Linked DNA regions of Homo sapiens: region 2 is linked to region 1. The links come from fine-mapping of genetic effects on gene expression. A gene starts in region 1. The other region holds a variant in brackets. All regions are shown on one strand. Distances are between the middles of the regions. Region 1 holds the start of GASK1A (golgi associated kinase 1A). Region 2 overlaps GASK1A (golgi associated kinase 1A).

Region 1 (5,222 bases):
TTTCATCAAGTACAGAGTCCTTGGCAAACACCAAACCTCCCACCACCACTGCAAAGAAAGAAACTGACAAGTGTTCCAATCTTCGCTTTAGAAAAATACACACCAAGCCATGGCAATGACCCCTGACTCCTCAGGATAATCAAAAATGCCCCCGCAGATACTGCAGCTCAATGCTCTTTTCTTTTTTCTTTTTTTCAAAAGGACATTTAAGGATTCTATACTTTTATTTGTATACTTCTAACCCAGAGTTTCCCATCATACGTATCTTGGATCAATAATAGGATGGCATTAGGGAAATACTGAATAAAGGATACCGTATTCAAACAAGCTGGGCAAGTTCAAATCTCAGTGTAATGAATTAAAAGACAATACTCTGTGGAAGGACCCTCAAAGAGATATAGCATGTGATATATGTGATATCATATAATGGGAAATGATATAGCATCTATCATTTCCCAAAAACTATTTTAGGACTATCTCAAGGAATGACCACTCTGTGGACATAGGGATATCTTGGGAAGTGCAGCTTTGAGCCCCAGCTTTCTCCCGTTCTCTCAGCCTTCTTGCCCTGTGGTTCTCAGCCCTGGCAGCACACTGGGCTCACTTGCAGAGCCTGAAAACATCCCTTGGTCTGGGTCTCATCTGGATTTGGGCTGGGGGATGGGGGCAGCCTGAGTCAGGGCTGAGAACCACTTCTTCCCCACACCTTTTTAGTTGTTCATGCTAAGCACAGCTCAACACTAGAATTGAGATCCAATCTCAAAATTATTCACATATCACCCATTTTTGGAGCTAAATGGCACCTTGAATAACATCTAGTCCAATCTCTCATCTAACAGAAGAGGAAACTAAGGTCCTCAAAGGATTCCTAGCCCCCTGTCTCCTCCCATGCTGCTTCTAGCCAGTGCCAGGCTGCCCTGTGGTCTCTGGACCTCAAGACCCTTCATTCAGATGGAGAAGCAAAGGACAGCCTTCAGATCTCCAAGGCCATTTCACTGCCAGAGGATGACCATCAGGCCCCTCTCTCTGCAAGTGAACCCTGAGACAGTGAAATGTTGACACAAGTCCTCTTCCTAACACAATACCAGAACCCAGAGCCAGGGACGTGAAACCGGGAAGCTGCAATGACTCACAGAACGGGAAGCTTACGCTGGCAGTGGGGCAAACACACCAATGTTCCCCTAGGCAGCCTGAGCAGAAGGCAGGTACCATCTCTCCTCCAGGCACTCTGCTTCAGCCGCAGACCACAGAGCCTCTGCTACATTTGCCTTTAAAGCCAGGAGACTCCAGCATGCTAATGCCCCTCGGAGTGGATGGCTGTGGCCTGAGTTCTGGTAACACTCTTGCTCCTAAACAGGGAATTTGTAATAGGATATCTCCACACTTTTCGTTTCACATCCTGTACCCCCAATCATTCCCCCTTTTGAAGCTTAAGATTCCACTATTTCCTTCTCTTAGCAGCTTTGAGAAAAAACCTGAAGCTGGATAGGTGTTAGGAGGGGTGAAACATACACACACCCCTAGCCTCAAAGGTACCCTTCCCTGAGCCCCCAGCTCCTTATGACCAGCCCTCCACCTCTGTTCCAGCCACCTGCCAGGCCCCCCTGCACACAAAGGAGCTGTTCTCACAGAGACCCTCCATCCTACAGCGCAGTCTCTAGACAGCCTTCTAAACCCCAGGCCCAGCAAAACTCCCCACAAAGCATCTCCAGTGGGTTCCGATCTGCCTTCTGTGAGCTTGGAAGGAAAGGGAAGAGGCGAGCAGGCACGGAAGCAGCCAGGGGAGCCCAGTGAACTGCAGGAGCCCAGTTGGGGTTGCAGGGGTTTTCTGCTGCGGGAGAAGCAGAGCAACTAACCAGCGGCCGGGCCTGAGGGACGCCCCTTTCCTGGGGTTGCATGTGTCCTTTAGCTAAGCCGCCTGGGCCACATTCTCGATGGGTTTTTCTTTTCTGCCTGTTAGTGTCTGTGAAGTTGATCAATGGAAGGGCCACGTCCACAAGATCCTGGTTTCATCGTGACATCCCAGACCCACCAGTGCTTCCACATCTGCCCAACAGTCCTCCTGTCGGGGAGGTAGAGGAAGGCGGATTGGAACCTTACTAGAGCCAATTTAACTCAATGTTAATTTAGTTATTAAATGTTAATAAACGTTAGGACATTATTTTTAATATCAATACATAGCTAAATTAGAGAAGATAGTATAAAATTCACATGAACTTTGGAGAGTATTAAAATGACTTCAAAAGCATCTCATCAGAGGCTGCCGTGGGTTCCCCAGGGAACGCTCCCCTCTCCCTGCCTTGTGGATTGCATGAAGATTGCAGAGTTGCGAGTGGGTTACGGTTAGGTCAAGGAGTGCAGATTAGTAATAAAAGCCCCCTTATTACGGTCCGCCCCACTAAGAGCGGCAGGAAAGCCGATCGCCCCCAGCTCTGGTGCAGAAATGAAAGCCGCCGCCGCCCCATGCAACTTTCGGGGAACAACTCCGGCCTCGGGAGGCCGCGCAGGCTGCGCGCGCCCTGGGCCGCTGCGCGTTGACTGCAGCCACCTGTCCTGGTGATCGCCCCACCCTCCGCTCGCGCGTTCCTTCCCGCGAGTCCTACCATGTCCCCGGCGGTGCCCCGGCCGGCTCCTCGGCGCGCTCAGCCGGCTCGCAGACTCATCCCGCCTCCCCTTGGCCGCCCCCGGCGCCGTGGCTCGCCAGGCTTCCCAGGATGCGCGGCTACTCGGCTGGGGCGGGTTTCCCGGACTGAAGGTGCACACGTTCTCTGCAGCCAAGTGGCCCTGCGCCAACTCTCGGGAGATCGCTGCACACCGGGATACTCCGCGGGTGGGGAATACACGCCGGATCTACTGAGATCTACGGGGATCTGAGGGAGCCTACCCGCGGCCGCGAGCCTCTGCGGTCTACTCGGGACTTTTGCAGAGTTTGCAAAGTCCCTGCCGCGCGTCCCGGCCCAGCTTCCCCATTCCCCTGAAAGCGCGGGAGGGGGAAGCTCCCTTCACAATAAAAGCCCTGCCGGGGGCTCGGCCAGCCGCAGTCTTCTGGTCTTCTGGAGTAGGGGCCCAGGTGCTAGGAAGGAAAGGTCTACGCCCTGACTGCCCGCCTGACGGGTGATGCACCAAGGCTGGACGGTGAGGGACGCCTCTAAGGTGTGAGGGTGCTTGGTGAGTTCGCTGCAACTCAGCAATATGGCTGAGTGTTGCCCAAACTGCCACCCTCTCCTGCCAAGCAGGACAAGTCTTTTTCTTTACTGTCGCTTGTCAGAAGGACAAGTCTTTTTTTACTGTCACTTCTTCGCCTTGTTTGGGTTCAGTCCCCAAGAGGATTTGGAAGGAAAATCCGTTGACCACTAAGCTAATTAACAATGAAGAGTTTTTGTCCTTGAGAACTAATCACTGTTAAAGTCACTGAAGTAAGTGGCTGATACCTCTCTGCTTTGGATGCACAGACAGTGCCTTTGTGTCCCCTGAGTCACCTACTGCCAACAAAGGCACAGTCAGAGCAAGACCTGAGAGTCTATCCGTTCCCCGTTGGGGAATGTCCTGGGCTTAGGGGTTCTGTAGTCCCAAAATCAGGGCTAGCCCCACTATTAACAGCTGGATGACCATCGACCAGTCCCCAGACGTCTTTATGACTTGTGTCCCCCAGTGGCCCAATGTTTGGACCCCAGGATTATTAAGAGCCTGTAGACAATGGATGGAGGCGAGGCAGAGTCAGCAGTAGGGTGCTCTGAGAGAATTTGGGGGCCAGGCTGAAAAATTAGCCTCCAGTACTGAAACTAACAGGAAGCATCATTAGCTAGATGAAGACAGGCATCTTCCCAGCAGTCTCCTGCCCCAGAATGATCTGAGGTTATCACTGATGGCAGTGCTTCTAAAGGGAAGCAAAGATCCAGAGAGTCCCCTTAAATTGTGTATGTGTGTATGGGCAGGAGGAACAGATGAAGGGAAAGTATTCGGTCCTTAACATTCCAGATGCTTTCTGTACATTATTTCATTTAATAACCACAAACGATCCTAAAAGGAAAACTTTTGCAAATTAGGAAAGTCAGGATTAGGGAGGTGAAGTAACTTTCCTGAGACCAGATCGCCAGTAAACAGTTTAGCAAATCCAAGTCTATTTGCCAGAACATGAAACAAAGAGGAAGACTTGATATGGCAGGAACAGGAGGCAGGATGTAGCACTGCAAACTGCAGCTTGTCTGTGCATATGGACTACTGAAAGGACAGAGAGTTTGAGCCCTGGTTGGGAAATGAGGGAAGAGGGTGGAGGACAGTACAAACCATTCAGGGTTTTATTTAGATGTTTAGGGAGACGCTGTGATCTTTTGAGTCTCATTTTCTGACTGTGACCCCACACAAGATATATATTAAACATATATGTATAAATGTAACTAAAAGATTGTTTTATAAAACATTACTTCATGTGATGCACTCTGACATTTTCTATTCTATTCCAATTTTATGTATTTTTAATGATGGTCTCAAATCACTAACTTAGACAGGAAGAGAGTGCCCAGTATTTCCAGGATTACTGGAAGCAGAACTGTTTTTCAAAAGAAGCAGCTCCAATGACTCATGGAACACACTTGGGAAAAGCTGCTGCAGGATCTAGCCCAGCCAAATAAAATGTCACACAAGAACATGGCTAAGCTGTAAAGAATTGTTTGTTGTTATAGCATATCCTGGTCCATCCTAATAACATGAATAAAATTACTTTTAAGAAGAATTACTTGAAAAGAGTCATAAATCAGATTTTTGTCATTTCTCTGCTCAAAACCTACCAGAGGCTTCAAATCTCCTGCAGTGTAACATGCCACATCTTACAGGGGCCTACAAGTCCTTTCACACTTTGGCCCTCATTGGTTCTCTAACATTATCTCTGCACACTCTCTCTCACTGTGCTCCAGGACACACTCACCTTCTTATTGTCCCTTGCATATTACAGGCAAGATCCCACCTCAGGACCTTTGCACTTGTTATCCCTCTCCCTAGAATGCCCCAGATATCCCCATGGTTTGCTCCCTCATCTCCTTCAGGTCTTTGCCCAAGTGTCACCTCTTTAGTGAAGCCTTCTCTGACCACTCTATTTAAGATTGCACACTCCATTCCTCTTCAGTTCCACCTTGTAATTCTTTTTTTTTTTTTTTTTTTTTTTTGAGACGGAGTCTCGCTCTGTCGCCCAGGCCGGACTGCGGACTGCAGTGGCGCAATCTCGG
Region 2 (5,222 bases), 32 kb before region 1:
ACCTAGCCCCTTTGTGTGAGTTCATACAGCCACTTCCTGTGACTTCACGTAGCCCCATCCAGTGGCTTTACCCAGTTCCTTCCTGTGATATCACACTACCCTGTCCTGTGACTTCCCACAGCCCCTTCCTGTGACTTCACACAGCACCTTCCTGTAACTTCCCACTGCACATTCTGGTGGCCTCACACTGCCCCTTTCTGTGACTTCCCACTGTCCCTTCCTGTTGCTTCACACTGCCACTTCTTTGGCTTCACAATACCCCTCCCTGTGGCTTCACAATGCCTGTTCCTGTGACTACCCACTGCCTCTTCCTGTGGCTTCACACAGCCCCTTCCTGTGACTTGACACAGCCCCTTGCTGTTACTTCCCACTGCACCTTCTTGTAACTTCCTACTGCCCATTCCTGTGGCCTCACACTGCCCCTTCCTGTGACTTCACAGCACCCCTTGCTGTGGTTTCACACGGCCCCTTCCTTTGACTTCACACTGCCTCTGTGACTTCTCACTGCCCCTTCCTGTGGATTCACAGAGCCTCTACCTGCGATTTCACACTGCCCATTCCTGTGGCTTCACATTGCCTCTTCCTGTGACTTCCCACAGCCACTCCCTGTGACTTCTCACTGCCCCTTCCAGTGACTTCACACAGCCCCTTCCTGTGACCTCATACTGCCCCTTCCTGTGACTTCACACTGCCCCTTTCAGTGGCTTCACACACTCCTTCTTGTGACTTTCCACTGCCCCTTCCTGTGACTTCCCTCTGCCCCTCCCTGTGACTTCCCACAGCTCATTCCCGTGATTTCCCATGCCCCTTCCTGTGGCTTCACAAAGCCCCTTCTGTAACTTCACACTGCCTCTTCCTGTGATTCACACAGCCCCTTCCTGTGGCTTCACACTGCTTCTTCCTGTGGCCTCACACAACCCCCCTTTCTCTGACTTCACATAGCCCCTTCCTGTGACCCCATTGCCCCTTCCTGTGACTTCACACTGCCCCTTCCTGTGGCTACACACAGCTCCTTCCTGTGGCCTCACACTGCCTGTGGCTCCACACTGCCCTTCCCTGTGACTTCACATAGCCCCTTCATGTGACTTTCCACTTCCCTTCCTGTGACTTCACACAGCTCCTTCCTGTGGCCTCACACTGCCTGTGGCTCCACACTGCCCTTCCCTGTGACTTCACATATCCCCTTCATGTGACTTTCCACTTCCCTTCCTGTGACTTCACACAGCTCCTTCCTGTGGCCTCACACTGCCTGTGGCTCCACACTGCCCTTCCCTGTGACTTCACATAGCCCCTTCATGTGACTTTCCACTTCCCTTCCTGTGACTTCACACAGCCCCTTTCATGTGACTTCACACTGTGCCTTCCTGTGGCTTCACACTGCCCCTTCCTGTGGCTTAACAGAGCCACTTCCTGTAAGTTCACCCTGCCCCTACTTGTGACATCACACAGCCCCTTCCTGTGGCTTCACACTGTCCCATTCAGTGGCTTCACACTGCCCCTTCCAGTGGCTTCACACAGCTACTTCCAGTGGCTTCACACAGCCCCTTCCTGTGACCTCACACTGCCCCTTCCTGTGACCTCAGAAGCCCCTTCCAGTGGCTTCAAACAGCCCCTTTCTATGGCTTCCCACAGCCTCTTCCTGTGACTTCCCTCTGCCCCTTCCTGTGACTTTCCACAGTCCCTTTTTGTGACTTCCCACTGCTCCTTCCTGTGACTTCCCATTCCCCTTCCTGTGGCTTCACACAGCCCCTGCCTATGGCTCAACACTGTCCCTTCCTTTGGCCTCACATTGCCCCTTCCTTTGGCTTCACACTGTCCCTGTTACTTCACACAGCCCCTTTATTTGGCTTCACACTGCTCCTTCCTTTGGCTTCACACTGCCGCTTCCTGTGACTTCACACTGCCCTTTTATCTGGCTTCACACTACCCCTTCCTATGACTTCACACAGCCCCTTCCTTGGCTTCACACAGCCCCTTCCTAACGTCACACTGCCTCTTCCTGTGGCTTCATACTGACCCTGTGGCTTCACACAGCCTCCTCCTGTGACTTCACACAGCCCCTTCCCTTGGCTTCACACAGTTCCTTCCTGTGATGTCACGTAGCCCCTTTCTCTGGCTCCACACAGCCCCTTCCTGTGACTTCACATAATTTCTTCTTATGACATCTTCCAGCCCCTTCCTATTGTTTCACACTGCTCCTTCCTGTGACTTCACTCTGCTTCTTCCTGTGACTTCACATTGTCCCTTTCTGTGACTTCACACAGCCATTTCCCATGGCTTCACACAGCCTTGACTTGCTGCAATTCAGTGTGTGCTAAATCCTAGAAGCCAGCCCTGCCTTGTAAATGACAGCCCACACAGTGGGTTCTTACATACAGAAAAAGGTTCCTATTTGCAATAAAAATCTCTTGTGATCTCCTAACCATTTTTTTTTTTTTTTTTTTTGAGATGGAGTCTCACTCTGTCGCCAGGCTGGAGTGCAGTGGTGCGACCTCGGCTCACTGCAACCTCTGCCCTCCAGGTTCAAGTGATTCTCCTGCCTCAGCCTCTCAAGTAGCTGGGACTACAGG[C/T]GCACGCCACCACACCCAGCTAATTTTTATATTTTTAGTAGAGACAGGGTTTCACCATGTTGGCCAGGATGATCTTGATCTCCTGACCTCGTGATCTGCCCACCTCGGCCTCCCAAAGTGTTGGGATTACAGGCGTGAGTCACCATGCCTGGCCCATTTCTTAATCTGCCTAAGCAAATGCCCTCTTGGCACATTTGAAGAAAACTATTTTGAACAGTTAAAAACACTATAGATATTTTACCTTAATGGATTTGTTGGTGGGTGGAGAGGGGGGAGTTGGGGAAGGTAAGAGGCTAAAGGTCCATGGCAGGGTGCAATTTGAAATTCCTCTGAGGCTCAGATCTGAATCTCATTTACTTCAAGCAAATATGGTAGGAGGAGCCATCCATGTGTCCATGGCTGTCTGCCCAGGTTCTGCTGCTTAGCTTCCATAGCATAACATCAGGGATATTGTAATCTTATTATGTGATGGAAACTTCCTTGGAGAACAAATGGCAATAGCTAGTGCTGGGGAAGGAATGAAAACCAAAAGAAGCCTTAGAAAATGATGGTTCTCAGTTGGGATGGGTGTGGGGAGGAAGTGGTACACAGGGAGACAAGACCTAGAAAATATTAGCTTTTAAAGCAAGAAAGAAAGGAATGTCAAACTTAGAGATGGCAGAAATCTATAATCCAAATGAATTCTCCACCCTCATGAAATACGAAAAGCAATTCAAAAAATCGTTTCAGCAAAGGCCTCAGCCAAGGTAAAAATTATTTTTCAAGGACAGTGATAGAAATTGAAAATTTAACTCTTGCAGCCCACTCTACTGTATTTCATGGGAGAATATAAAATGCTATAATGGTGTTTCTCAAATTCGGGGATTTGAGAAAGCCTCAAGAACTAGGCTTTCTTGAGAAGCCCTGAAAGCATTAGGGTTCTACTGAAGAGTATGGCCTAGCAGGAAGAAGGCTCTGGCTGGGTAATATCTGAGTACGAGTTCACCTTTTCAGACTCCCTCCTTCACCAGAGTGGTTTCTGTTATTGTAGGTACTGAGTTGCTATATATAACGGCCTGGAACCCAACATGTGACTGGTAGACAACAGGGAGTGAAGGATACTGGGAAAGGCATATGATGTTAGGCACGTACTTTGGAGACCCTCAGGGAACCAGTGTGGGAATCCAGAGCACCCTGGGGCAGGAGGCAGCTTCCTCCAAAGGAACAGTGTAGGGGTGAGGTTGCTCCCCAGAAAAATTGTGCTGCATTACAATTTTATCCTTCTATTCTGACCTCCCCTAATGCCAAGCACTGGACCAAGAAATAAGGACACCAGTGCGAAGAAGGCTTGGCCCCTGCCCCCCAGCAACTCACTGTCTCAAGTGAAAAGGTAATGATATAATAATTTCCCTCATGCCAATTCTGGCAAATCTAGCCTTGCCTACGTTCAGGCCACTTATCTTTCCAAACTTGTGGGACAGGGCTGGTGAAGCATGGAATGCTGGACAGCAGTTCTGGGTGCCACCACCTGAGGTCTCCACCAACATCTGATGACACCATGAGTTTGTTACATGTTTTTCACTGTTATGGCTAGAAGGATGTTGCCTCCAGATATTCTCACAATGACTCTAACAGGTAGGAAGGAAATATCATACCATTTTATGGCTGAGGAACTCGAAAAAGAGACTTCAAAATTTGCTCAAGGTGACACACCATCTAAGTAGAAGAGCTGAGATTCCAACTCTGGCCTCCAGCCTGCAGAGACCAAGCCCTTCCCAGCACACAGGAGCCAGTTCTGGCCCTGGGGACTTCAGGGCACATGGGGGAAAGAATTAGCTCAGGCCATCAGGGGTTTATCCAGAAGCATTTTCAATGCGCCCAGATAACCTGGGGGAAGCAGTGCTAGCAGAAGGATTTTAAAGACCTGAGAAATACCTGGATCCGTCTCTTCATTACATTGGCTGGGGTTCCTGATACCAGCTGAGACATGGGAGATGATGAGTTGTGTTATCTTTCAACAAATACTTACACTCACTTCAGAAAGGCAACATCTAGAAGGATGCGCTGAAGGATACACAGGAGCTGGACTCTCTAGGTCCAACCCCCCAGCTTTGCCCTAATAAGCATATATCTTCACATCAATTTCTGCATCTGAAAAATGAGTATGAAAATGGTTCCTCCCTCAAAGAGTTGCTGTGAGGATTCAACATATTTTAATGTATATAAAGTGCTGAGAACAGAGCCTTGCATACATTTTTATAGTTATTACTTAGCATTATCATTAAATCTCATGATTATTAAATCTCCAAGGTACTTGGGAACTCCAGCACCTCCTTTAAGTTACTGCCCCATGCCGCACTCTCTCCATCTGTGGATGGGCTGGTAACAGTTACAGTCACAGCATTCTGAACACTGGCAAACCATAACTGAGAGGAAAGCGTGTGAAGAGGTTTCAGGGACTGATACCAACGTGCCTCCTCAGAGCCACCACTTGCTCAAGTGACCAAAAGAGTGACCTCTGACTCCCTGCTCTGCTGCTCCTAAGTGCAGTTGACTTCTAAAGCATGGCTGCTCTGTACACACCTGTAGAGTCCTGGTGAGGGCGAAAGCATTCCTGGGCAGATGCCTGGCAGCAGGAAAGCAGGGCTCAGACACAAAATACCTCTTAGAAGA

Evidence for each region. PIP is the estimated chance that this variant, and not a neighbour inherited with it, causes the effect.
Region 2: its variant is the best candidate, but not a certain one, in a credible set for the expression of GASK1A in lung (TOPMed, PIP 0.55).

What each region holds. Positions count from the first base shown.
Region 1 is chr3:42,977,027-42,982,248 of GRCh38, reverse strand. GASK1A (golgi associated kinase 1A) reads right to left here and starts at 2,938. Exons shown (of 5, transcript NM_001129908.3): 1 at 2,604-2,938. The coding sequence starts at 2,606.
Region 2 is chr3:43,008,604-43,013,825 of GRCh38, reverse strand. The region is part of intron 1 of GASK1A (golgi associated kinase 1A); the gene reads right to left. Among named protein-coding and RNA genes, the nearest start is that of GASK1A, 32 kb to the right of the region's middle. The variant C/T (reference allele first, on the strand shown) is at 2,571.